4 linked regions of the Homo sapiens genome follow. The protein of the gene in region 1 interacts with the protein of each later gene in a pairwise test. Each region holds a gene or a part of one and is shown in the gene's direction. Other genes may lie near its edges. The genes, in order: CFAP418, CAMK1D, RBFOX1 and SMARCAD1.

The links.
Region 2: the proteins of CFAP418 (region 1) and CAMK1D interact in a two-hybrid assay, tested with the Homo sapiens proteins (one study listed by IntAct).
Region 3: the proteins of CFAP418 (region 1) and RBFOX1 interact in a two-hybrid assay, tested with the Homo sapiens proteins (one study listed by IntAct).
Region 4: the proteins of CFAP418 (region 1) and SMARCAD1 interact in a two-hybrid assay, tested with the Homo sapiens proteins (one study listed by IntAct).

The regions. Positions count from the first base shown.
Region 1 is NC_000008.11:95,245,185-95,252,212, reverse strand, and holds part of CFAP418 (cilia- and flagella-associated protein 418), read left to right. Parts: coding exon 1-25; intron 26-4,442; coding exon 4,443-4,596; 3' UTR 4,597-7,028. UniProt on the Homo sapiens protein: May be involved in photoreceptor outer segment disk morphogenesis.
Region 2 is NC_000010.11:12,828,543-12,835,570, forward strand, and holds the end of CAMK1D (calcium/calmodulin-dependent protein kinase type 1D), read left to right. Parts: intron 1-226; coding exon 227-345; 3' UTR 346-7,003; downstream 7,004-7,028. UniProt on the Homo sapiens protein: Calcium/calmodulin-dependent protein kinase that operates in the calcium-triggered CaMKK-CaMK1 signaling cascade and, upon calcium influx, activates CREB-dependent gene transcription, regulates calcium-mediated granulocyte function and respiratory burst and promotes basal dendritic growth of hippocampal neurons.
Region 3 is NC_000016.10:7,512,999-7,520,026, forward strand, and holds part of RBFOX1 (RNA binding protein fox-1 homolog 1), read left to right. Parts: intron 1-5,148; coding exon 5,149-5,391; intron 5,392-7,028. UniProt on the Homo sapiens protein: RNA-binding protein that regulates alternative splicing events by binding to 5'-UGCAUGU-3' elements. Regulates alternative splicing of tissue-specific exons and of differentially spliced exons during erythropoiesis.
Region 4 is NC_000004.12:94,245,847-94,252,874, forward strand, and holds part of SMARCAD1 (SWI/SNF-related matrix-associated actin-dependent regulator of chromatin subfamily A containing DEAD/H box 1), read left to right. Parts: exon of another isoform or gene 1-2,707; intron 2,708-3,807; coding exon 3,808-3,909; intron 3,910-4,815; exon of another isoform or gene 4,816-4,905; coding exon 4,906-4,987; intron 4,988-6,769; coding exon 6,770-7,028. UniProt on the Homo sapiens protein: DNA helicase that possesses intrinsic ATP-dependent nucleosome-remodeling activity and is both required for DNA repair and heterochromatin organization.

The DNA.
Region 1 (7,028 bases):
AATCGTGTGATTATCTGTTTTTCAGGTATGTTGCTAAAGAACTTCACTCTGAAAAAAGTACCAAGTAGTTTATATTTCCTATTTTGATATATTCTCTCTGGGTGGATTCAGCCAGATCTTGTGGGCTTCACCTCTTCAGTATAGTCATGTGCTGCGTTATGATGCTTCAGTCAACGATGGACTGCATATATATATATACATGGTGGTTCCATAAGATTATGACGGAGTTGAAAAATTCCTATCACCTAGTGACATCATAGCCTTTGTAATATTATACTGCAATGCATTGCACATGTTTGTGGTGATGCTGGTATAAACAGTAACATGCTGTAGAGGTTTGTAGCCTTGGAACAGTAGCCTATACCATATAGCCTAGGTGTGTGGTAGGCTATACCATCTAGGTTTGTATAAATTCACTCTTTGATATTCCCACAATGATGGAATTGCCTAACAAAGCATAAGCAATGCATGACTGTGTTTCTGTCATCCATCTCCTTCTCTCCATCTGCCTGCTGTCAGCCTAGATAAGGACATGTTACTTCTGGACAAGAATACAGAAGTAACCTCCTCACTGGTTTTTCTGGCTACAATCTCTTCTCTCAGACCATCCTTCCCTTGTTCAGAATTAAAGCATAGCTCAGAGTATACCGTCCTCCTGCTCAACACCCTTCCACTTACAGAATAATGTCCAAATTCCTTAGCATGGCATTCATGACCCTCCATAATCCAGCTCCCATCCATCCATCATCCAGCTTTGTCTTCCCACAATGTATATTTCACCTTTGCAAGATTTTAGCTACATCAGAGTACTCAAGGCTCCCATTCCCTCTGACTTTGTACAACCTCTTTACCTCTTGGGATGCCTTCCCACCATTTTATCTACCTAAACCCTACCTGTCCTTCAGAGTATAATTCATCACATGTCTTCCATGATTCTTTCACCACTCTCTCAACTGGAAGAAAACTCTTCCCTTCCTGTGTATTCACGGTGCTTTGGACCTATTATATACTGTAATATAAAACTGAAGCTCTTAGGTTGGTGTATGACTACCTCCCTCCTTGTGGCTGAGATAATGTCTTGCTCATATTTATATAATTTGTACATTCTTATACACTTACAGAATACCTACTATCTTTAAGGTGTTACAAGTTATAAAAATATATTTGAACTTTACATTGACATTTTCAAATAAAAATTTAAAGCTAAAAATTAATACAGTGTAATATTGCAGCACTTTTCAATAGCATAAAGAAAAGGGTAAGAGACTTTCCCCTACGCCTTTTTTGGCAGCCATTCTTGGGTAAATCTATGAGTATACCCTAATTTAATAGTTTTTAAACTTTTTCACATCAAGAACCACTTTGCAAATCTTATGAAAGCTTTGAATGCCCCTCATACACATACAATTCAAATATAAAAATACATGGAAAAATTATAACTTGAAAAATTTTACAGTTTCCAACCCAAATAAAGCCTAATGTACTCCCAAAATCTGAGGTTAGGAACCCATACTTTTAGGCTTAGCCCACTTTTTACCCCATAAGTGGAAAAGTTGGCTTTTAATTACAGGTTGACTTTCCCTTTTCTGACTTTTCTAAACCCTCTGCTATTTACTGTCTACTAGTTAATCTAATAAGTGGTTAATAATCCCCATATGTCACCAAGATGAAGCATGAATTTTTATAAAACTATCATAGGATAATAAAATGCATGTAACATCAAGGCAGTGGTGAACACAGGCATAAAGTAAACTATGGATAACCTAGTCGGTACTTGAGGAACTTGCAGCATCTCAGAGTTATCAAGAACACCAGTTGGTTTACCCTAGATCTGTGGCAGCCTGGTTTAAAAAATATATGTACTTTTAGATAAAACAGTGACAACTAGAGGATTTATTATACTATTAAAAATAAACAAGTAGTCATTATTTAAATCAGTAGAAAATACTGTCTCAGTTCTCAAGACACTTAGGAATATGTTTGGGAGATAAGAGAATGGAACAGCTAAAGAATAAGGCGGTCTCCACCATTAGGATATAAATCACTGATAGATTTATTTTGTACAATATATTGGTGTTTACCAGTAGACATTATTCAGCACCTAGTCTATGACACTCTTAGATACTGGGCTCATAAGATGAGAGGAACCCAGGGGAAGGGAGACATGGGTGGGGACAAGCATGTGAGCAGCAAGGTCATAGAGACAATAGGGTCAAGAGCACTGATGGGAGGTGAGCCTTGGATAGGAAAAGGAAGACCTCTGTGACTGAGAGGAAGCCAGCAAGGTACTGATGTGTTCAGGGTGAGCTTGCCAGGAAATTGAAGGCTTTCATACCTGGCGACCTGGTTTTGAGAATGAAGATGTGATCTGCTGAAAATAAGGGAGTGGAGGAGGATGTGGAATAATCACTGAGGAAACCAGAAGTGGACAGTGACCAAAGACAAGTTAAATGTTACACAGTGGAATGCTGTGCAGTTGTTTTATTGTCCTATTTTACAGATGAGAGAAATAAATGTATCCTATCTTTGAGAAGTTTTAGAACTTTTTTTTTTTTTCTGAGCCAATCTTGCAAACCCTGTTACCCAGGCTAGAGTGCAGGACTGCAGTTTCAGCTCACTGCAACCTCCACTTCCCAGATTGAAAGGATCCTTCGGCCTCAGCCTCTCGAGCAGCTAGGAATACAGGTGCGCACTACCACATCCAGCTAATTTTGTAGAGATGGGGTCTCACCATGTTGCCCATGCTGGTCTCGAACTCCTGAGCTCAAGTGGTCCACCCACCTTGGCTCCCCAAAGTGCAGGGATTACAGGCATGACCCACCACACCCAGACAAGTTTTAGAACATTGTAAAAGAAGTGTCAGCTATACTTACTGACCACCTTGCCACAACAGCTGAAGAAAATGCTTTTATTTTTCTATTAAATCGTGTTTTCTTTAAGAATGGAATGATTTTTCCCTAAGCTTTTAAGATACGTGCATTTTAAAAACCATTTCAAATGTCATAATTAGATCCCTGCCTATTCATGATTCCTAATCCTAAAATCGCTAAGGATTCAGTCAAGTATCAAATGTTAAGTTTTCAAAATATTTTGCAGATCAAATAAAGGACATTTTTCCTCAACAACTTAGTTTTGGCGGGGTTTTTTTCTTTCTGTTAAAATTTAGATTATTCATTTCTTCCCTTAGCTAAGTCGTTTAGCTAGTCAGTCTGTTTCCTGAAGTCAGACAGTTGGCTTGGAAAATCTGTCAGGTTTTGTGAGGTTCTAACCTTCTAAATTGTGCCTGAATTTCGTACAGTTTAATACTGAATATGGTGCCCATTGACCACCAGAGGGCACTTTGTAGCCTGCCTTCTGTTGCAGTGATATCCACAAGCAATGGTTAGGTACCGTATCTCTTTTTCTGGTATTCATACTGTATTTCGTCCTTTCACTTTGTATTTTTTCATCTTTTTTAAAAATTTTTTCTACTTTTCTTTGCCATGGAATGTTTATATGAACTCATTACATGGATTATCATGAAATCATAATTGATGTTTTTATTAATTAAACTTCTGTAGTCTTTTTTATAATAGTATGAAATCCAGTGTTTATCATTTTTACGATGGCCCTACTTGTTGATTTAATTATTTCAACATTATTAATATTTATTTCAGGATAGACATTTTTGTTGCTGATAGTATGAATAAACAGATCATTGAAGCTAATGAAAATTTTCTATAGTTAATTCATCAGAAACCTATGATCTTTATGCCTCTAATGTTCTCTCAACTTGCCATATTACAGGCTTTTAAAATATGGCATAGGTGAGTATCTGAGGTAGGAAATGAACCACCATCCTTTCCACCCTATTTTCATATTATTTCATCTCTGATAGGGCGTTTGTAATTCTTCAGCCTTTAGGTTATTGTGTTCTTCAACATTCAATAAACTGGCCTAGAGGATTGCCATAAAAAGTACAGATTATCAAAGAAATACCATCAGAAAGAGAACACTGAAGCATATCTTCTAGTGTTAGTGTGAGGGGATCTAGGTTGTTTAGTGTTCAGATACGGGGAAGATAAGAAAATAGGCTGGGCACCATGGTTCATGCCTGCAATCTCAGCACTTTGGGAGGCTGAGGTGGATGGATCACTTGAGCCCAGGAGTTTGAGATCAACCTGGACAACATACTGAGACCTCATCTCTACAAAAAAAAATTTTTTAAGCCGGGCATAGTGGCACATGCCTGTGGTCTCAGCTACTTGGAAGGCTGAGGGGAAGCCTGGGAGGTCAAGGCTGCAGTGAGCCATGATTGTGCCACCGCAATCCAGCCTGAGTAACAATGAGACTCCTAAAAACAAAAAAAGAAAAGAAAAGAAAGCAATGACCTTTTTTTTTTTTTTTAATCATTAAGCACTGAACAAAGCCACTATGCTAAAACTTTCCTGTTTTACTAATAGGAACAACATGCCAGAATTTCACAAATTAAAAGCAAAGTTGATAAAGAAGAAAGGAACACGGGCATATGCCTGCCAGTGTAGCTGGAGAACTATTGAAGAAGTGACTGACCTTCAGACAGATCATCAGCTTCGCTGGGTTTGTGGTAAACATTAAGAATGCAGACTGCACATTCGGACAGATGCATCCATGAGAGTGGTCTCCATGAATCATCATCATGTTTAGACAATAGTCCCTAGCAATACCATTCCCTGTGGGAAAAGGCAGTGAATTTTATTGATACAACTACATACATTTTTGAAGACCAAATGGACTAAGGAAGATCATGTATTATAACACTTTGGAATTATTCCTGATACATGGATGTTTCACTTAGTAACAGGCATCTACATTCTTTACTAATCTGTCTTCTGTTTAATAGAGGTTTGATTATGGAGTTCCATACAAATATCTAGTTTTTCATTAGCAACTGCAATATTGATTGCTAATACGTTTAGCAAATCATTCCCCAACTTGTAGCAGTTAAAGTGGATAAAGCCGGCCAGGGCAAAGAGATCATTTAGGGGTGTCTACAACACTTCTTCCAGTCAGATCTTTTGTTGCCAAAGATCATAATTTGGACATGGCAGAAACCAGGTGATCAGTGGCTGACTGAAGGGTGTTCAGAAGTAGTTACAGGTATTTTGCAAAAACACTGCCTCATAGCTGATCTTACCTCATCAACTCAAAGCAATGTTATGCACAATATTAAATACATGTTACCAGTTTTAGCTTATTTTTCCCTCTTTTGTTCATTTAACTATCAAAAGTTATTTTCTATTTTGATTACCCAATAATATATAAAAAGAGTTTGATGCACCCAAAATCACAAAAATCCTAATACATACAGGTTATTGTTGGATTTTCCAAGTACTTTCTATCCTTTAATGCCTAAAACTCCATCAAGGGAAGTAAACAGCAAGTAATATAATTTTTCAGGCAGCCTGTGGACTTCTCTGGTAGGATCAGGTTGACATATCGTTTATTAGGTGAGTAAGTGAAAAGACAAGTAAAGCATAACTGAACCAACAGGTAACCTGTTGGGCTCCTTCCTGACATCACTGAGATCTGAGGAGCCCTACAATAGCAGCACATTCAGGAAATCAGGTCCCTCAAAATTTCTAGCTCCCAACCCCATTGAGAGATTTTGGGAGCTTTCCAATCTGCCACAAACTCCCTGCTACATATGTACTATATAGTTCAAATGTGTGATACAGAGCACCCTGAAAGGGAATAATTGAAACAAAGTTATAATCTTCTTAGTCTTATGCTAAATTTATTCCAGCCACCCTACTGAAGGGAGGAAGATCTGATCATTAGAATCCTTTTCCTAGCCATGACACATTTACATACTTGTAAAATTTATTGTAGTAAGTCTAGCATTGCAACAGAATAGATCTTATAATGGCCAATCCTCACACTTTTGTATTAAGGATATTATGACAGACTAAGCATGGTAGCTCACGCCTGTAATCCCAGCACTTTGGGAGGCTGAGGCAGGCAGATCAGCTGAGGTCAGGAGTTCAAGACCAGCCTGGCCAACATGATAAAACACCATCTCTACTAAAAATACAAAAATTAGCTGGGCGCGGTGGTGCATGCCTGTAATCCCAACTACTCGGGAGGCCGAGGCAGGAAAATTTATTGAACCTGGGAGGCAGAGGTTGTAGTGAGCCAAGGTCGCGCCACTGCGCTCCAGCCTGGACAACACAGTGAGACTCTGTCTCAAAAAAAAAAAAAAGACATTATGACAGATTTTATCTTTTAATAAAAATGTATTATATCCCTAAAGTTATATCTATATGTAATTGAGTCAGAAACCTAGGGGGATGTCGATTGAAGTCGACTGCTGGAAAAAAATAGCAGAGCAACAAGATCCACACATTTAGAACCTCATAGAATTTGACACATTATTCATAATGGTGCAATTCTTTCTTTTTTATTCCAGTAAGCAAATTTACTAAATCACTAATTTGAAAAAAAAAATTTTTTTTTTGAGATGGAGTGTCACTCTGTTGCCGGGCTGGAGTGCAGTGGCACGATCTCTGCTCACTGCAACCTCCGCCTCGCAGCTTCAAGTGATTGTCCTGCCTCAGCCTCCCCAGTAGCTGGGATTACAGGCACACACCACCACGCCCAGCTAATTTTTGTATTTTTAATAGAGACAGGGTTTCACCATGTTGGCCAGAATGATGTCGATCTCCTGAACTCGTGATCCGCCCGCCTCAGCCTCCCAAAGTAGCCTACATTGCCTCTACTTTGAAGGGACAAAGTTGTCCTGGTTTTTTTTTCCCTTTTATTATTTCATTATAACTATCCTAAAACTTACATACATTGCCTATGTTTGGCATTCCATAACATAATAATTATAATAATCCCCCAATGTCAGAAATGTATGTGTGAGTTCCCATGTTTATTGGCAATTTATAAGCTTTTTAATATTGTACTATTTTAAACTAAAATGTAGAAAGAATATTATGTTTATATACAGTCAGATAAATTATTAACTGTTGTAATTTAAGCTGAAAATGAAACTATTTTAGTATCAG
Region 2 (7,028 bases), on another chromosome or scaffold:
AAGCACGAGAATCGCTTGAACCTGGCAGGCAGAGGTTGCAGTGACCCGAGATCGTGCCACTGCACTCCAGCCTGGTGAAAAGAGTGAAACTCCATCTCAAGAAAAAAAAAAAATTGGGCCCCCCCGCCCCCCACCATAAACCCAGCCCCTCTGACACCTGGCAGTGGGAAGCAGGGTGAGAATTTACCTCTGAAACTCTGAAGCCCACTTCTGCTGTTCCCTGCAGGTCTGGCACCTTCCACGCTCTGTAGTTTCATTTCTTCTTCGTCGGGGGTCTCAGGAGTTGGAGCCGAGCGGAGACCCAGGCCCACCACTGTGACGGCAGTGCACTCTGGAAGCAAGTGACTGGCCCTGGAGGTGGGGCCCGGGGTCGGGGCTGGGGAAGGGGAGCCCCAGGGTCGCCAGAGCCGCGAGCCACTCCAGCGAGACCCCACCTTGCATGGTGCCCCTTCCTGCATAGGACTGGAAGACCGAAGTTTTTTTATGGCCATATTTTCTACTGCAATTCTGAAGTGTTCATTTCTCACAAACTGTACTGACTCGAGGGGCGCTGATTTCATAGGATCTGGTGCTGTATATACGAATCTTGCAAAGCTCTAACTGAACGGACCTTCTTATTCCTCTCCCCTAACACCATCGTTTCCACTCTTCTCAGTGTAGGTAACCGTCTATGGTGTGTTTTTTCATTAATGACAAAAAAAAAAAGGTTTCAACTGGATTATTTAAATATTGGTAAATATTGTGCATTAGGGTTTGTTTTTCCTTTTAAGAAGTATGTCCTTTGTATCTCTAAGTTACATGACCTATATCTTTTCCTCTTTAATAGTAGTTTTATGTTAACCTTTAAGAGATTTGTTTTTCCTCAAAGGAGAATTTAAAGGTATTTTTTAAAATTCTAATAAGAGGATCAGCCGGGTGCAATGACTCATGCCTGTAATCCCAGCACGTTGGGAGGCCAAGTCGGGCGGATCACAAGGTCAGGAGATCAAGGCCATCCTGGCCAACATGGTGAAACCCCACGTCTACTAAAAATACAAAAAATTAGCCGGGCGTGGTGGCACACACCTGTAGTCCCGGCTACTCGGGAGGCTGAGGCAGGAGAATTGCTTGAACCCGGGAGACGGAGGTTGCAGTGAGCTGAGATCGTGCCACTGCACTCCAGCCTGGGTGACAGAGCAAGACTCTGTCTCAAAAAAAAAAAAAAAAATTCTAACAAGAGGATCATGAATCTGTCTCCAAGGCTAAGAGTGCCCTTCACCTCTACTCCTTCTGTTTCTCTCCCCTTCCCCAGGAGGAGGGGCCCCTCAGTTCTGCGAGGCTCTCTTCTCTGCGGGGGACTTTGGTAGAGAATCTGCACAGAGCCTTTGCTGGCAACCCATCCAGCAGAACCCACACCCACCAGAGACCCTAGAGGCCTCTTGCCATCAGCAACCAGAAATAAGCCTGCTCCCCCGAGACGCAGGGCTCAGCTTCACAGGCCAGACTTGCTGTGAGTGAGATGCCCACACTGCAGAGATGCAGGACCCTCCCTTGCAAAAGGAACCAGCTGCCATGTTGCTGAAAGTGGGCCCACACACAACCCTCATTTCTCACGAGAGCTAACAGATGAAAGCTCAGCTATGCAGTGTTAAAATTCATCTCTTTCTCTGTGGTTTTTAAAAAAATGCATTTCTAATCTTACACTTCACGTGGCCTCCAACACAAAGTTCTTTCTCCACATTTTTACCCTCTTCTCACATGAATGTTTTCCAAGGGAAGGAAGGGAGGGAAGCAGCCTTGGGAAAGGATCCATTTCTGGTGGTAAGGAGAGGGGGCCCTGCCAGGCTAATGGGACTTCAGCCACCACAGAGATGACCAAAGACCACCTCCGCCAGGCCCAGCCAGTGCTTGCAGCCCTCCCATTGGTCAGGGGAGTCTAAAATCAAAGATACATGGTGGTAGGGTCACCAAACGTCCCATTTGCCCGAGACTGAAGGATTTCTCAGGCTGTGGACATTTAATGCCAAAACCAGGAATATCCGGGGCAAAGCAGGCTGTGTTGTTCGCCTTTGTGGAGCCAGGCAGTGTGTGGCCCAGGGAAAGCTGCGTTTCATGGAGGCTTCCAGGAGGCTGCCCTGTAAAGCCAGGCAGGTGGCTTCAAGTGCCATTCCTGCAAGTGCCCCTGCTTCAGCTCTCAGGCCCATCCAATGCCTCGAGCCCACGGGGGTGTCCCGGCAGGTCTGCGTCATCACGACCCAGTAACGCTGCTGGCTGTGTCCTCATGCCCTCTTCCTCTGGCTGGCCAGTCATGGGAAGTCCTGTTGGTTGAGTCATCTTTGTCACTTCTACACCTTTGAGTATGTACAGGCTGAATGTTGAGTGATGCCCCCCCACCCTCTCAATAAACACACACACACACACACACACACACACACACACACACAATGTTATTAGGCACAGCAGCTCCATCCTGCTCCCTGAGAATGGCAGTGCAGGCACAGAGAAGAGCAGTTGGGAAGACAGGCAGCTGGTCTACCCTGTCCCCGCACACTTCACAGGCACTCCACTGCTTGGCAGGAATTCTGCATGGCATCTGCCACGCATGCTCACAGGGTGAAAAATCAAGCTGTCACTCTGCAAAATCTAAAAACCCTGGAAAGGTCTATAAGATGACATTAGACCCAGTTAAGAAGCAAGTGTCACCTGAGTTGGCCATGCAATGAATGAATATTATAAGCAGTATTGGAGAACTAGGCGGTTGCTTACTAAGAAGTGTCTTGGAAACATTCGAGTTCATACAGTGCATGACAAAGTAATAGAAGGCTGCAAGCGCTGAAAATGCACCCGAATCTGGTACCTAGGATGAGTACATGAATAGTGATGAATAGCCCTTTGTGCTGTGTGCTATATACAACCATTTGCATTCAGAAAGCAGCATTTGAAGCTGAGTTCCATTACTGGTGATTGAAGTATTTTCAGGAGCAGATACATGTGGTGCATGTTATATGCACTTAGTTTGAAAGTATCCCTCACCCAAAAAGTGCAGAACCTCTGAAAGGTGAGCCGTGGTGCAGGTGCCCCCCTCGCTGTTCGGGTCAGTTCTTGGCCATGCTTGGCCTGTCACACGCCGGGTCTCAACAACATCGTGCGAGGAGACAGTGACTGGTTTCAGCCCAAGAGTCAACTGTTGAGCATGACATCAGGAAGCCTGTACTGTCCTGATCCCACCAGGCTTGGGTTAATTTCCTATTGCTTCAGAGAAAGAGAGGCGCTCTTGTGCTTTTGAGAGAGCTCTCATGTTAAAAAGAGGTTGTCTTTGCACTGCGCTTGGTATGATTTGTTTTCTTATAAAACAGGAAGAGAACCTAGAATGTGCCTTTCGTGAAGGTCTGACAAATGGGGTCTCAGAGTCCTAGGACCCGCACCAAGGTCAGAGTCCACCTGTAGAGGCTGAGCATTTCTACATGCACCCAGGGTGCTGGGCTGAGGCTAAGGGTGGACGCGTAGACCCCATCACAGGCTTCCTTCCTGAGCCCAAGTCCCCCATTTGGTCACTATCCCTTCTCAGAGCAAGTGGATTCTCTTTTCCTCACTTGGAGTATTCAATGTTGAAGTAGTGGCCTGGAGTGGCCTTTCCCTCAGCTGCCTGTCTGGGCTCCCTGGCTTCCCGGATCTTCATCTCATACGTGAGGCAATAGGAGGAGTTTCTATTCATTGAGACAAACAGTGAGCGGGCACCAACAGGCCAGCAGCTTGGCCCTTTTCACAGAGGTGGCCTTGGAGTCTGGAGTCTGGGCAGCTGTCTGCCTCTCTACGGCTCTGCTTCCCAGCGGGCACACGGGTCCGGAGCCTCAGAATGAAGTGGTGCAGAGGCGCAGGGCACACCTAGGAGAAGCTCAATGACCACCAAAGCCCTTGAGGAGAGACGGGGTTTGCTGTGTTAGAGAAATGGCAACCCCCAGGACCATGCACGGCTCTGGCAGTGCACAGTGGCTGATTTTCACCAGTTCCTCCTACCCCTGCCTCTGTCGGAGACTAGAAAACATTCTACCCCTTCAGGTCTTCTTTTAAAAGAAAAGAGCTATGGCAAAGCGTGCCATACAAAGTTAAAAAAAGGAAGAGTGGCTTTGCGTTCTTGACCATGGCCACAATTCTGGTCACTTCTAGCATCTGACCTTGAGAACGGTGTAGAGTCTCTGAGCCACCGCTGGCCTTTGAGAGAGTCTCACTCTCCAGCTAGCTCTTTGTGTAGTGTCCAGGGCCCCGGCAGTCAGGATAGAGCGAGCAAAAGAAGATGGACAGTGGACAGGGCGCAGTGGCTCACGCCTGTAATCCCAGCGCTTTGGGAGAGCGAGGCGGGCAGATCACAAGGTCAAGAGATCAAGACCATTCTGGCCAACATGGTGAAACCCTGTTTCTACTAAAAATACAAAAATTAGCTGGGCATGGTGGTGCGTGCCTGTAATCCCAGCTACTCGGGAGGCTGAGGCAGGAGAATCGCTTGAACCCGGGAGGCAGAGGTTGCAGTGAGCCGAGATCGTGCCACTGCACTCCAGCCTGGGTGACAGAGCAAGACTCCGTCTCAAAAAAGATGGCCATGCTGGCCAAGGCTGGGCTCATAGGAAATATCTGTAGTAGGATGAAAGGAATCTGGCCTAGGGAGCCCCGGACTCGGTTTACCTACCCCGTACTCATCCCACTCATCTGTCTACCCTAGTGTCCATCATGCCCTGGATGAATCGTAGGTGGGAGGGACAGAAGCCGAGAACACCAGGCACACGGGGTGGGGGGAATGGGGGGAGCCCAGGTGATCCCCTTTGGAAAGTGGATTGATCCTCTCCCCTGTGGAATGACAGCTTAACCTGATTAACCCACTGGGGCTTGCTATTTTATGAGCATTTTTAAACAGAAAGGAAAGATGATATCCCAGTGCAGGTAGACTTTATTTTTGAAAGCATCGTGGCCCCTCACCTCTCCCTCTCCCCCAGAACCTTGGCCAGAATTGAGTCTTCGCGTTGGGGAGGCCACGCTGGAACCATTGCTCTAGGGCTGAAGGTGGAAGTAGGGCCACTGCCGCAGCTTCAGCCAGAGCCCTCGCTGCTTCGCAGAATTTAACAAGCACACGACTGGGATTCCTTTGGATATGAGAAAGGAAGGCAAGTGCGGGCAAAGGGAAGCTCCTCCCGTTTTTCATAAACAGAAGTAAGATGTCCTCTTTCCCAGGTTTGCACAATCACTTCTGGCAAATTAATTGAAGGTCCTTGAATTCAGCCAGTGCACGAAACCTTTGCATGTTCTTCTGAAACTGTACTTCTTCCCTATTCTGTCTACCCACACTCTGCGAACTTTGCCTTTTCCTTAAACACATTCCAGACCAAACACTGTTCAGTTTGTTAAAAAAAAAAAAAAAAAAAAAAGATGTATATACCTGTATGTGATCCACCACCCTTTTGAGGGGCACCTGGTCCTCGGTTGGGGCTGCAGGTGTGCCTGACATTTGCAAAAGATATTCCAGTCTTTCGATGTTCAGAATTGAAAATGTGGAGATAGAAAAGCTCAAACAGACTCCTAAAAGGAGGGTTTCTTTCCTGAAGACTCCAAGAAAATGAGTGTGCAGATGAGTTAGCTTGACAACCTCAACTCTGGGGAGCAGGCAGGCGGTCTGAGGAAGATAAGGGCCCACGCCCCACTCACCTGGCACCTGTTCGGTGGTCCCGGGGCATCATGGTCTGCAGCTCTGGGCCCCCAGCCCCACTGTGAAGTCAGTCCTGCATGCTGGCCGAGGCCCGGCCACCTCCCGATGCCTCCAGAGTCAGTGGGAAGGAGTCAGCCCTTCCCAGACTTCCCCGCCACCTCCAGCAGGAGCAGCTCAGTTTGTGGCTCTGGGAGCTCCGCTTTTGCAAACCCAAAAAGGCTGTGCATTTGGAAGCCAAACGCTCAGCATGCGGCTGCCGAGTCTGGTTTTGTGGACAAAGCAAACTGTGGAATGGCTTCTCGGTGTCTGTATAAAGGGACAAACGGTTGCATTCACCCTTTGTACTATAACACCGCTTCTGCATTCGCCATATCCGTTTTTTAACCTTTTTGTCTCCGGGGAACTTCTCATTCGATTATTATGTCTTCTGATGATTTGCCATGTTATTTTAAAGGTGATTTTATTTTCTTATGGACAGGAAAAAAGAAAATGAGGAGGAGTTGGTTTTACTCTTAGAGATAAGACTTCAGCAGGGGCTCAGAAACCCCAAACTCTAGTTAAATTGCTTCTCGGAGGAAAATCTTAATCTAGACAGATTCAGATTCCCAGGCTCTCCTGGAAGCCCTGCACTTCAGGGCACAGGGGCCCTGGGACGTGGTTGGCAGCCAGGCTGCGAGAGAGCTAAAAAGGAACAAGAACATCAGCTCGGATGTTTGTCTCTCAGCCCTGACACCTGCCACTCTCCTTCCCGGGGCACTTGGCCCTATCAGAGGGACATGAAATGCTGTCCGAATGGTGGCAGAAATGCAGCGACATTGCATGCAGCAGAGTCTTTGCTTCGAAAGATGGGGCGCCATGTTTCAGAGAACATTTATCTTAGTCCCACGTTCAGGTGAGAAGACCTCAAAGGTACCCTCTGTCCAGAATAAACATTGGAACAATCTCTCAATTGGCTTTTGTCACTACACATAATGTAATCTCCCTTCTTTCAGCTCCCCCAACAGTGAGCATGCTTCCCAAAAAATTACAACATCAAAACCAGGAATGTCCCCGCATCTACTATTACCAGGCTTGCAATTGGTTCAATTTTCCCATAAAAACATGTTTGTCCAAAAGAAGGGAAACTGTGAATTTATTCCATGCATGTAATAAACTCTGCAAGAAGTTTAACCCACATAGGTTTGCGGCACTGCAAAATTGTTCATGGGTCTATGTAGCAAATGATTCTCTGCCTTGACAATCATGTATACATATCAAGATTTCTATCATAATGATAATGAGATTGATGACTTCCTGTTTTCCTCCAATAAAGACAATTAATCACCTTCAGATGCTCATTTCCTCTGTCATGAGA
Region 3 (7,028 bases), on another chromosome or scaffold:
CATGTCTGTAATCCCAGCACTTTGGGAGGACAAGGCAGATGGATCACTTGAGGCCAGCAGTTCGGGACCAGCCTGGCCAACAGTAAAACGCCGTCTCTACTAAAAATACAAAAAATTAGCCAGTCATCATGGCGGGTGCCTGTAATCCTAGCTACTCAGGAGGCTGAGGCAGGAGAATCACTTGAACCTCGGAGGCGGAGGTTGCAGTGAGCCGAGAGCCTACCATTGCACTCCAGCTTGGGTAACAGGAGCAAAACTCTGTGTCAAAAAAATAAAAATAAAAATAATGAATGAATGAATGAATGAATGAAGTGAACTCCCCACCAGGTGATTCTCTTGCTAGATGAGAAATGCCTTGGTTTAACTCTTGGCTTCCCTAACAACTACCTGTGACTGTGGCCTCGAATAATTATTTCCCAGCTTTGGTCTGCAGCATCTTTGATGACAAGGTAAATTGAGATTAGAGATGCATTGCATGAAAAGTAGGGATTCTGGACCTTGGCACTATTAACATTTGGGGCGGGACAGTCTTTTGTGGTTCAAGGTAGTCGTATACTCTGTAAGATGTTTAGCAGCATTCCTGGCCTCCACCCACTAGATGGCAGTAGCACATCCTCCCTCATTTGTGACAAAACTGTCTCCAGTCATTGCCTAATGTCCTGTGGGGAGCAATCACACCTCTGTAAGAACTACCGGTATGAGGCGCCCAGCACAGTGCCTGCCACCTATTAGGTTTTCTTCTGAGGACCAGTGAGGAGAAGGGGCTGCTTTTCATGGAAGTCTGAGGCCATCATGAACCTTCTGCTCATAAGCCCACTTATGCAGATTTAAAGCCTGTGTGCCTGTGAGTTTACAGGTCAAAGATCTGCGGATGGAAAGTAAATTCCCCAAAAGATTCTGACCCACTGTTTTTGCACCATTTTCAATATTGCCAGTCTCCAAGTCTAGCTATCACCCCTCTTTGGTTTGGAGAGTATACAGGCCCTTTCTCTCTCTTTCTACTTCACTGCCTGCTTTATTTCCTGCCCAAACTACTTATGCAATAATGGCTTCTTAACTGGTGATCCCATATCTAATGACATTCTGCCACAGCTATTAGAAAACATTTTCCACAAAGGACCAGATGATAGATCATTCAGTCTTGGTGGGCTGGGCAGTCTCTGTCACAGCTATCCAACTCTGCCTTTGTAGTACAAAAGCGGCTACAGACAGTAAACAAATGAGCATGGGTGTGTTCCAATAAAACTTTATTTACAAAAACAAAATTTGGGCCAGGTTTGCCTCATGAGTCGTTTGCTAGGTCCTCTCTTCATCCCCCTACCCTATCTCCTGCTGCCAGACTAGGCTTTACAGAGCCCAGAGGTCATTTTTCCAGCACATATTCACTTGGCAAACATTTATAAATGTCCACTTTGCAGCTAGTATGCTGTTGGACCATGGAGATGGGACAGGGAATGTGGCACAGTGTCCTGTTTTCAGGGAGCTCACAGACAAATAATCAGGCTGTGGCAGTGCTTGGTGCTGTGTGAGCTGTGGCCACCAGCTGCAGTGGAGCAGAGGGGATGGGCAACTGACCAGGTTTCAGCATCAAGGAAAGCCTGCTGGAGGAGGGACTCTTGATGCGGACTGAAGGAAGAGTAAGGACTAGTTGGGCAAGGGGGTAGGTGAGGCTTTCCAAGCTGAGGGGCAGTAAATGTGAAGACTTGATGGGGTTGAGAGGATGGAGCTCTTCTCCCTTAACTGACCATAAGCTTCTGGAAGGCATGACCCTTCTCTCTTCAATACAGAGATAGCTCGAAGTCTACAAGGAGCCTTAGCTCTTTTGCAAGAACTAGTAGGAATGGGCCACTTTTCCTGAGCTTGCTCTGCACTGATGAAAAGCCCCAGGGTTATATATGTTCCTGGTGAAAGTATCTTCTGCTGGAGGTGGAGGAGGGAAACCTTTGTCTTCATATGATCATTGTCTGTACCACTGCTTATGTGGTTATTCTGTGCTTCCCTGTAAGAGTTTACACAAGTCTACCTTTCACTTCAGAGATGGGCCAGGTAGAAGGTTGGGGAGGCAGAAACAGATCTTTGAGCAGAAGCTGCCTCTGGCACAGTGAATTTCTCATCAGATGATTCCCAAGATCCCAACATTTCTGGGGCTTTTCATCACCCATAGAGAAGTGGCATCGCTATGAAATTTCTGTACAGAAGGATATGTTCCTTGAACAGCCCAGAAAAAGAAAAGATGCTAGTTTAGTTATAAAACAGCAGAAGTTTTTTTTTTTTTTTAATTAGTCAAGACCCTTTTGGTTGTAAGTAACAGAAAAAGTAGCTTAAAAAATGAGACAAAGGGTACAAAGTGTCAGTTTTGCAAGACAGATACATTCTGGAGATTTAAGTACAGCATGGAAACAAGAGTTAAAAATACTGTATTATATACTGGAAGTGTGCTAAGAGGATAGATCTTAAATTAAATCTCTCCACACACACATACACACACACACACACACACACACAAATGGAGATCATGTAGAAGTGATGGATATGCTAATTACCTGGAATGTGGTCACTTCACAATGTATACATATGTCAAAACATCAAGTTATACACCTTACATGTATAATTTTTATGTTAATGGTATCTTAGTAAAGCTGTTAAAATATGGGACATTTACTGACTTGTGTAACTACAACAAACAGGGATGGTGCTGACTGCGGGTAAAGCTGGATTCAACACTTCAAATGACGTCACTGGGACTCAGTAGAAACCTCTCTGTTCCTCAGTTTCTTCTCTTCATTTTCCTCTAGGTTGGCCTCACGTGTAGGGAGGTCCCCTTCAAGTGGCAGTTCGTTGTTGTTGTTGTTGTTGTTGTTGTTGAGACGGAATCTTGCTCTGTGGCCCAGGCTGGAGTGCAGTGGTGCACTCTCAGCTCACTGCAACTTCCACCTCCCACATTCAAGTGGTTCTCCTGCCTCAGTCTCCGGAGTAGCTAAGATTACAGGCATGTGCCACCATGCCCGGCTAATTTTTGTATTTTTAGTAGAGGCAGGGTTTCACCATGTTGCCCAGTCTGGTCTCGAACTCCTGACCTCAAGTGATCCACCCACCTTGGCCTCCCAAAGTGCTGGAATTACAGGCATGAGGCAACATGCCCACCCTAAGTGTCAGTTCTTGGCAGCTCCAGGCTTATGATGTTTTTACAGCTGCCCATCACCGTGGAAAGAGAACTTCTTCCCCAAAACTACAGCAAAATCCCAGGGTGACTGGGACTCAGTGGTGTGACTAGGGCTTAACGCACTAACGGACTCACTAGATAGATGTGCATGAACGCAAATCCATGGGACTATCTCAGTGGGACCATCTGATTGGCCAGGCTGATGTCCTATGGCTCATCTCGTAGCGACTGGGAGCTGGGTTCAACTGTATCTGCACCATACAGGCTGAAAGTGGGACTGTCCCCCAAAAGGAAACTGGGGCTTTGTTGAAGAAACAGGAGTGGAGACAGACCAGCAGTATCACTGCATGTCTTCTTTGGCTTCCCAAGGATGGACAAGGTTAACTGCTCATGGATAGCAACTCAGCCTCAACATAGGCACACCCTCCATGGCCCCAGTGCTATGGGAAAATGTTAGAAAGAGAAAGAAATGCTCGTGCCCTTTTGTTTCCAGTGGCACAGACATTTGGCGAAATTTGTCTGGAGGAGGGAAGAGCCTGATGGGAATGATTTACTTGTAAAATGTTTAAACTTATCCTAAGCTTAGTTCTCTTCCAAGTGTCATCTTTAACATTCTAATTAAGGTCCCTTCTAAACAAATGCACCAGCTCCGTGTGCTGCTCTGAGAACAAACTTTTTTTTTTTCCTCTCTTCTTTCTGTCATCATGTTTTTGCTGCACTCAAATTGCTTTAGAGAAAGAGGATTTCGGATGTTGGTGGCAAGTACTGAAGAGATAAGGAGAAATTCTGATATTTTTGCCCTAGTATCATTATATGAGGGCCAAAGTCACATCTAATTGACCACAGACAATAGGAGAGGCAGCTATTTGGTGTGCCTAATTGCTAAGTTTTTTTCCTCGCTCTGTCTTTCTGACTGTGTGATCCCATCTCCTGAGACCATGGAAAGTTTAGACCTTTGGGTTACAATTTCTTATGCCGTGTGTGTGTGTGTGTGTGTGTGTGTGTGTGTGTGTGTGTGTGTGTGTGTTGTGGTAGAACTGTGGAGGAGGAGGTAAAGAGAGAGAGCTGTTTCCTGAAATGGAAGCATTTGTATTCAGGTTTTTGTTGTGTGTGTTTTTAAAATTCTTCTGAGTTGGCTGTAATTGTCACACTGCCTGTTTTGCCTAGATCTGAAGAATGAATTGTTATATAATACTCTGTGCTCATAAAAAAATAAGGCAGGGAGGGAGAGGCATTGACTAATGAGACTGAGAGTTAAATCCAATATTTTTCAGAAATGCTTAAAATGGGGATGTCAGAGAGGACAGTCTTTGTCCAAATTAGGCCCTGAATTTGTATCAGCTGCTTCATTTTGGCACTGGGGACATCATACACGCATACACACACACAGACACACACACACACACACACACAACATAACACACAACCACACAGACACTGGGACCATTAAAAGGATACTCCCTATTCCCATTATGTGAGCCAAGTCACATAAAACTTTGATTAAATTCAAATGCTTACATAAATTGTCTCTCCTCTCAAGAACACACACGTTCAATTTAGTCTCTCTTGGCACTTTAAGTATCAAATCAAGGTTCTGCTGTCACTGCAGACAACTAAATGCTCACAGCTTCCAAAATGGGAATGAAATAAAAAGGATCTGCCAAAAAAAAAAAAAAATCAATCTAGTAAAGCCACAGACCCTCATGTCTTTGAATATTAGGCTGGGTGGCTTGGAAAAAGCGACTTTATCTTTATCTTTCCAAGCCTCGGTTTCTGCATCTGTAAAATGGGGAGAAGTGATGGTTACTGTTTCCTTATAGGGTCTGGTGAAGATGACCTGAGATTGGTCCATCTCAGGCTGGTGGCACCATGGTGACCCCTAGAAAGTACGCGGGGCACGATCGTCCTGGGATCTGGGAGGAAGGTTTCTGCATGGTGGCTCCTCATGACGTTCTCTCCCTCTCTGCACCTTTTTGATTTTTCAGGGTAATCAGGAAGCAGCCGCTGCCCCTGACACAATGGCTCAGCCTTACGCTTCGGCCCAGTTTGCTCCCCCGCAGAACGGTATCCCCGCGGAATACACGGCCCCTCATCCCCACCCCGCGCCAGAGTACACAGGCCAGACCACGGTTCCCGAGCACACATTAAACCTGTACCCTCCCGCCCAGACGCACTCCGAGCAGAGCCCGGCGGACACGAGCGCTCAGACCGTCTCTGGCACCGCCACAGTAAGTGGACGTGTTTGCTACGGGTGGGAGGTTATGGGGAGGCGCCCCCAGCCCTGGTAATGGCAGCGGGGGTGCACCCCCATCTACCCAGGGACTCTGGGAAACAGATCAGTCCCTAAGCCCACCCTCATCATACCAGCTTCCTGAAGTTTACCTCATTTCCATGCATTCATTCTTAGCGTTCATTTAAATCAACGGATTATTAATTAATTTCATTTATTTGTAAAGGGGCACATTTATCAATTTTCTATTCCTATAGTTTTGCCTTTCTAGAATGTCATCCCAATGAAATCTCATTTTTTTGGAAAAAAAAAATTTGATGTAAGATAATTTTTCTTCAAGTCTTACGGAGGCTGGGTGTGGTGGCTCATGCCTGTGATCCCAGCACTTTGGGAGGCCGAGATGGGAGAGTCGTTTGAAGACAGGAGTTCGAGAATAGCCTGGGCAACAAAGTGAGACCTCATCTCTACAAGAAATTTAAAATTTAGCTGAGTGTCATGGTGCATGCCTGTAGTCCCAGCTACTTGGGAGACTGAGGTGGGAGGATGGCTTGGGGCCAGGAGTTTGAGGCTGCAGTGAGCTAAGATTGCTCCACTGAACTCCAGCCTAGGTCACAGAGTGAAACTCTGTCTCTAAATAAACAAAAATAAAGTCTTTGTGGAATTATAATTTACATACCTTAAAATTAGTATATTTTTAGGTGTACAGTTCACTGATTTTTAGCATATTTACGGAGTTGTGCGATGATTGCCGGATGCATCTAATTTCGGAACATTTCCATCAGCCTAAATACAAATCTTGTGCCCCTTTGCAGCCACTCCTCATTCATACCTCAGAGCTCTGAACCTCGCTTCTTTACCTTAGCCTAATACATTTGAGATTCATCCAGGTTGCGGTGTTTGTCCCTGGTTTCTTCATTTTTATTGCTGGACCAAAGGGCAGGGGCTAGAAAGAGGCAGGGTGAGAGAATTTTGATGAATAAGGGAACTGTCCTGTATCTTAATGGTGACGGTTACATGACTTTATACGCCATAAAGAGTAAATTTTATTGCGTACAAATGATGAAATGGATTAGAAACAGGCATGTAAACAGAAACATTTTATCATCACTGTAAATGAAAACTGGTGTTTTGATCATTAATCAAATATAACTCTAAATGAAAATATTTATCATAAAATTAAATAATGTTCATTTGTGTGCCACCTAAAGTAATCATGCATACCACAAAACCTGTATGGAACATGCATTTGGGAACCTTTTTCTGCAGAATTCTTTAGAAGCTTGGGAACCCCAATCCTGTCGTCTGGAACATTTTTTGAGTGTAAGGCAATTCTGCCTCTTCGTCCTGTCCCAAGACCTCAGGAAAGCAAGTATTTGTGAAGGAGTTTATGGCTTTGAAGCATGATACATTTCCTGTGATAAAAGAAAACACTGACTAACTTTGCTACTTGCCACCTCATTCATTTGGAGGCTAGTTTTGACGTTTTGTTTTTGTTTTTGTTTTTGTTTTTTTGAGATGGGGTCTCACTCTGTTGCCCAGGCTGGAGTGCGGTGGCGCGATCTCGGCTCACTGCAAGCTCCACCTCCCAGGTTCACGCCATTCTCCTGCCTCAGTCTCCCGAGTAGCTGGGACTAC
Region 4 (7,028 bases), on another chromosome or scaffold:
ATGCAGTAATTTTTGGAAATATATGTGTCACAGCAAAACTGACTGTGGTCAGTAGAAGAGGACATGATGACCTTTCTTTAAAACTCTCTAAAACGATTTTCCCACTGGGGCTTGCCAAAGACTTCATACAACATCCTTACCTGCAACAGATTCTTGGAGAATCATTGCATCTGCTGGTCACGAAACCCAAGTGGCGGAGTACCTTGTATTGCACTCTGGACCTGGTACAGAGCCGTCTCTTAACCTGGGCCCCATTCATAACTGACATTCTTTTTTTTTTTTTTTTCTTTTGAGATGGAGTCTCGCACTGTTGTCTGGGCTGGAGTGCAATGGCATGATCCTGGCTCACCGCAACCTCCGCCTCCCGGGTTCAAGCAATTCTCCCACCTCAGCCTCCCGAGTAGCTGGGATTACAGGTGCCTGCCACCACGCCTGGCTAATTTTTTGTATTTTTAGTAGAAACGGTGTTTCACTGTGTTGGCCAGGCTGGTCTCAAACTCCTGACCTCGTGATCCACCCGCCTCAGCCTCCCAGAGTGCTGGGATTACAAGCGTGAGCCAGCGTGCCCAGCCATAACTGACAATCTTAAGAGGTATTTTATAAAATGAATCAAGCAGTACACACCCTAATGAAGTATATCTTGCCTCCAGTGTGCAGTGAGCTCCCAATGTCCAGTCTAAAGAGGCAGATAGGTGCGGCCTTTCTTTTTTCTTAAGAGTGGAGTTTGCAACATGCTCCAGACTACACTCCCACGAAAGTGGTGGGCCTCAGAGTGAGGATGGTTATTCCTTCACCCTGATATGTGGCATGTACGTATCTGACCAGTACCATTGAAAATACCCACTACCTGTATCAAGTCCAGTCAACATGATGTCAGTATAGTGGATCAAGTGATACTCTCTAGACTGTGCAAAACCATCTAAGTCCATGAGTACTGTATTATTTGAGAGAGCCAGGAAAGTTACTCTAACTCTGAAGACTGAAGGTATATCATTAAACCTGCCAAGATAAAAACGGATTGTTTCTGTTTGATCTAATTGGGAAAGGGGAAAAAGCAAGTACTTGATTGATAACTGCATAGCCATATTGATTTGCTCCAGCAAAAATACCACATCCTGTAAAGCAGCTGCAGCTGGAGTTTGATTGTTTATGATACTCTTAAATACTTGCAAGACTCATCTACTTTTTGTATAGGTCAAGGAGGCATCTTACATTGGGATGGGATGGTGGTGTCAATATCTGCAGTTCCTTTAGGACTGTAGTAATTGCTTATTGTTTTGATTGAGAGGGACAATTCTAGGGACTTGGATTTGGTGTTTCCTATAATAGTAGCCCATACATCATGGGTCAGGGAACTGATATAGTATGGGATTTCTGCCAGTGCCAAATATGTCTGTTCCAACTATGATTCTGGAGATGGAAAAATAAGCACTGGGTCGAATCATATCCCTTGGGCCCGCTGAGACAGATACAGTCCCAAATTTTATCAGCTAGCTTTTGTAAAGTGTCTGTGTAACCTCCTGGACCACATGAGTATATTCAGTCACCAGGGATAAGCAGAGCTGGCATAAGTGTGGGACCCAAGAGCAAACAACACATGATAGGCACACCATCTACTAAATATTTGATTCCGAAGAGCTGTTTACTGTTTTCCAGATATTTTATGTATTTTTTTATTGAGGTGAAATTCACATAGCATAAAATTAACCATTTTAGAGTGAACTATTTAATGCTATTTAGTACATTCACAGTGTTGTATACCATCATTCCTGTCTAGTTCCAAACGCTGTCATCACCTCGTAATAGCATGCTATACCCATTAAGCAGTTTCTCCCCATTCCCTCCTCCCCCTAACCCCTGGCAACCGCCAATCTGCCTTCAGTCTCTGGATTTACCTATTCTGAACATTTCATTTAGGTGGAATTATATAATATGTAACCTTTTATGTCTAGCCTCTTATTTTTTAATTTCAGAAAAATGTGTTTTATTTGTTTTTTCTTTTTTCAACTTTATGTTAGAATTGGGGTACATGTGCAAGTTTGTTACAAACGTATATTGCGTGATGCTGAAGTTTGAAGTATGAATGAATCTGTCACCCAGATAGTAAGGATAGTACTCCATAGGTAGTTTTCCTTAACTCTTCCCCCACATCCTCCCTCCGCCTTCTTGTGTTCCCCAGTGTCTGTTGTTCTCATTTTTATGAACACGTGTACCCAATGTTTAGCTCCCATTTATAAGTGGGAAATGTGGTATTTGATTTTTCTGATTCCACATTAGCTTGCTTAGGAAATGGTTTCCAGCTACATCTGTGTTGCTGCGAAGAACATGATTTTGTTCTTTTTTATTAGCCTCTTACATAGCATAATGCTTTCAGATATACTACAATGTTCATTCATGTTGTGGTGTGTATCAGTACTTCATTCTTTTTTATGACTTAGTGATATTCCATTTTATGTGTTTACCACAATTTGTCCATGACGCACATTTGATATATTAACAAATGAACAACTGAAGTTTAGTTTTCACTTATGTAGTGAAAAAGCAGTGGTCTAGAGTTAGATACTTGGATCTGTTCCCTCCTCAGCTGGTTGTTGTCCATCTGTGAGCTTTAAAATACTGTTCTTGGAATTTCAGTGTGCCTGGGCTGTAAAGGTGGCAGTATGAATTTTGAAGATTTTGAAATGGTTTCTCCAGATGGGTTTCACCAGTATGTCTTATTATTCCCCTGCTCAAAATCCTGTTGCTTCTTAAAAAAGACTAACCTTAGGCTTTATTCCATGTTAGCTCTGGTTTAATTCTTCATCCTTGTAACCTATTAACATTCTCTGCATTTGAGCCCAAGTAGACCACTTAGTATTATGAAACACATGCAATTTTCTTCTTTAGTCCAGATATCCATAGCATTTTATTGGTCTCTGTTTTATGAAATTTTATTTTACTCCATTGTGCAGAGGAGGTATCAGAATTTAGTTATTTCTATCTAAGGTACTGAAAGAGAAAAATAGCAATTCAGTTGTTGGATAATAAAGGAGGTTGAAGAAGAAGATTGTATTTTTCTCCATCTTGTGTGTATAGCATGTGGTGCAGTTCTAAGCAGAGTAGAAAAATGCTTTTTGATTGACTAAAATTTTTCCTATGCATGAACACAAGGAGTCTTTTCTTTTTGCTTAAATGTGGACTTTAACCAGTTTCTTCAAGTGAAGTTAAGTGACAGAGAAGAAGGAAAAGTGAGACTATGTATAGCCACAATTCTCATATTAATTAATCTGTTCGGTTTATACATTATTTAGTTCCACTTAAATTCCTTTTATCATTGTTTCAGTTTTATGTTGTGACTGAACAATTAATATTTAAGCCATTCTGTGAATCAAGAGTGAAGTAAAAGTAAACTCTTCTCAGAATTTGAAATTTATAGGTGGATATATAATAGTGAACATAGATGAGATATTTGTATCCTTTTAAAATTTACCGTTGTCTTGGAGAAGGCATCAGTATACTTGAATTATATTGAGTTAATTTGAGGATCATTCTAGTTTTTTAGGAGATTTATCTCATTTTAAGCACTGAGAATAAAGTTTGAGTTACCGGATATGCAATCAGGGTCTTTCAGTGATCTTAAGTCAGCAATATTTTTCATCCTTAAAGACATAAATATGTCAATGTTCACAGAAACAAAAAGAAACAGTTTGGATTCTTCTGACTGATGATGATAATTTTCAGATCAAGTCAAAATACAATGATAATTGCCTTAAGACCATTGTTATTGATATCTCTTAAATTGTTTTCTTTTTTTTTTCTCCCCATTAGGGAGAGGAATCAAATGAGTCTGCAGAATCTAGCAGTAATTGGGAAAAGCAGGAAAGTATTGTACTGAAATTGCAAAAGGAATTTCCCAATTTTGATAAACAGGTGAGTAGTCGTGTATGAAAATTTAATCAGTGTGTACTAAGTGTTTTTATTATAAAATAGTGTTAAGAGTTCAACCACATAAAAGCTTAGGGTGAGTTTTGTATTCTTCTAATTAAATGTTCTCCTTTTATCAATGTTATAAAGTATTTTCATACTGTTTATTTATGTTGTTTATTTACCTTGTTTACTATAGTATCTATACTGTATCCCTAAGTCATTAAAAAATAACCGTAATAAAAATTGTGAACTCATTTATAACATGTAAGTCATCTAGAAAGTCATCTGTAACCCTGCCCCCATCAAGTAACTGCTTAGTTTTTTTCATGTTCTCATTCTTGAAATTTCTTACAAGAATTTAAAAAGTATTCCATTTCAGTGTCTTAATATTTTATAAGCTTTCTACTACTTCCCAGATAGTGAGAATGTTTTCAGAGTCATTAAAAAAAAAGACTCATGCCACGCATCCTGTTGCTAAAAGGCCCTCTGTTTAATCCCATGATCATATATAGAAGCACATATTTGTTTAGCATTTAGAGTACATTTACACTTGCACTGATTTATTTGAGTATATATGTTCAGATAGTACATCTACTAAATTCTGATGAGCTGAATGCAAAATCTTGTTGCAATATTGGTTCTTTACCTTTGTTGAAACTACGTTTTGAAGTTAGCAGTTTGTAAAAGCCTAGCTGCATATTGAAATTTCATTTTTAATTGAGAAAACATTTCTTGATCCTCTAGTGTTCACAGTACTTCATAGTGAGCATTAGAAATGCAAAAAAATGTCAAGTTTTCTTTCCTTTGAAGACTATTGTGTATTTGTGGAGGTGAAATTACACAGAAAGCATTTGTAAAGCAGTGTAAAAACAAGTGCAAAATAATCAGATGTGAATTCTCTGTTTTCAGGTGATTAACTTATTTTTAAAAGAGCATAGACGTTTTCTGCAAGTTGCTAATTTGAGATTTTTAACAAAAAGATAAATGACTTATTTCTAGGAACTTAGAGAAGTACTCAAGGAACATGAATGGATGTACACAGAAGCTTTAGAATCTCTAAAAGTGTTTGCAGAAGACCAAGGTAATTATTCTGGGTCATAGAAAATACATACTTCTCATTATAGTCTGTATTTTAGTATATAAGAAAATGGTATATAAGAAAAGCTATTAGCTGTTAATCAGAGGGTGGGATTGCAAAAGATGTTGAAAGTAATGATGTAAAAACATTCTTTAACAACCAGTTTTTAAATGTTTTGACCTGCCTGTTCTTTATCATAGTGTAAAACAAAACAATAAATATCTTTTTCTATTTGTTCAGTCTTTCTTAATAGTTAAGGCTACTTTTAAATTGCCATGTTTTATTGAGTGTAAAATAACCTTTTTAACAACTGTCAGGATGGATCTTGTGATTGGTGATATCATGTCATTACTGTAATGTAGATGTCTTAGCCTATACTTGCACAGATATCAAAAGCACTAGCATCAAAAACTTAAGGGTATCATAGGCATGAACACATTTTGGAACACTCTTAATTCTAGGAACCAAATGATAGAGGAGAGGTGGTAAGGAAGAGTTGAGTCATACATGTTTAGTAACATACCTAAGGAAGAATCAAGTAGACTAGCTCTTCATAATTGCAAACCCAGCATGGTAGCTTTTGGTGTTTTGGTTTGGGTTTTTTTGTTTGTTTGTTTTTAATAAATTGTTTTAAAAGGCTATACTACCAATACTGTTGATGGCACAGAAAATGATATTCTGTGGCAAAAAGAAAGCCACCAAATATGAGTTTGAAAAATGAGTCAGAAGAGCCATGTTATGAATGTGAAAACATTTGAGGAATACTTTAGCCAATTCATTTTGCTTATTTTTTATAAATGCACAAAAATAAAGGTATGATAATCTGTGTAAGTCTAATAGCTTTCTGAGTAAGTAAAAATTTCTGAATAAAGTATTGTATTATAGATTGGTGCATGTTTTCTCACTGGTACATAAAATAATGGTGTTACCTTCATTCACAGGCATCTTAGAATTCTGTAAACTGATAATCAGTGATAAAGTAGTGGGGCTTTTTGATAATACTGTATTTGAATAATTTTTTTTATTTTTTATTTTTTTTGAGACGGAGTCTTGCTCTGTCGCCCAGGCTGGAGTGCAGTGGCACAGTCTCGGCTAACTGCAACCTCCACCTCCCAGGTTCAAGCGATTCTCCTGCCTCAGCCTTCTGAGTAGCTGGGATTACAGGCATGCACCACCATGCCTGGCTAATTTTTATATTTTTAGTAGAGACAGGGTTTCACCATGTTGGTCAGGCTGGTCTCGAACTCCTGACCTTGTGATCTGCCCGCGTCGGCCTCCCAAAGTGCTGGGATTACAGGCGTGAGCCACCATGCCCAGCCTATTTGAATAATTTTTTAAGTAACGATGCAACTTAGAATATTGAAGATAGTATTGGAAAATTATGGATAGTTGAAACATACACACTTTTTATTAGTAAGCTTTATAGTAGTGTAAGCATCATTCTGCTATATTCTTCAGTGTTGGCATAGTTGAGTGGGGCTGCTAGGAATATCTGAGACATCATACAGATACGCAGCTGCCATTTGTGTTCTCAGGACCTTTGTTAGAAAACAGAGATTTATATTTAATTCATTTTAAAAACAAGTTATCACCTGCTTTTGAAACAATTGTTTAACTTCAAATTCTACTTAAGTATTTTTAAAGTGTATCAAATTTAACAATAAATTGTCGTTGAATTCTTCTGTATTCAATAGGAATAGGTAAATGTTTTAAGTTTTTATTTGAAGTCTATCTTTATATTTATGTATTTCTAATTTAGTTACTGTTTTTGTCTTTTATATACAGATATGCAATATGTATCACAAAGTGAGGTTCCAAATGGAAAAGAAGTTTCTTCAAGAAGTCAAAATTACCCTAAAAATGCAACTAAAACAAAACTAAAACAGAAATTTTCAATGAAAGCACAAAATGGCTTTAACAAGAAACGTAAAAAAAATGTTTTTAATCCAAAGAGAGTTGTTGAAGACTCTGAATATGATTCAGGTTCTGATGTCGGTAGTTCACTAGATGAGGACTATAGTAGTGGTGAAGAAGTGATGGAGGA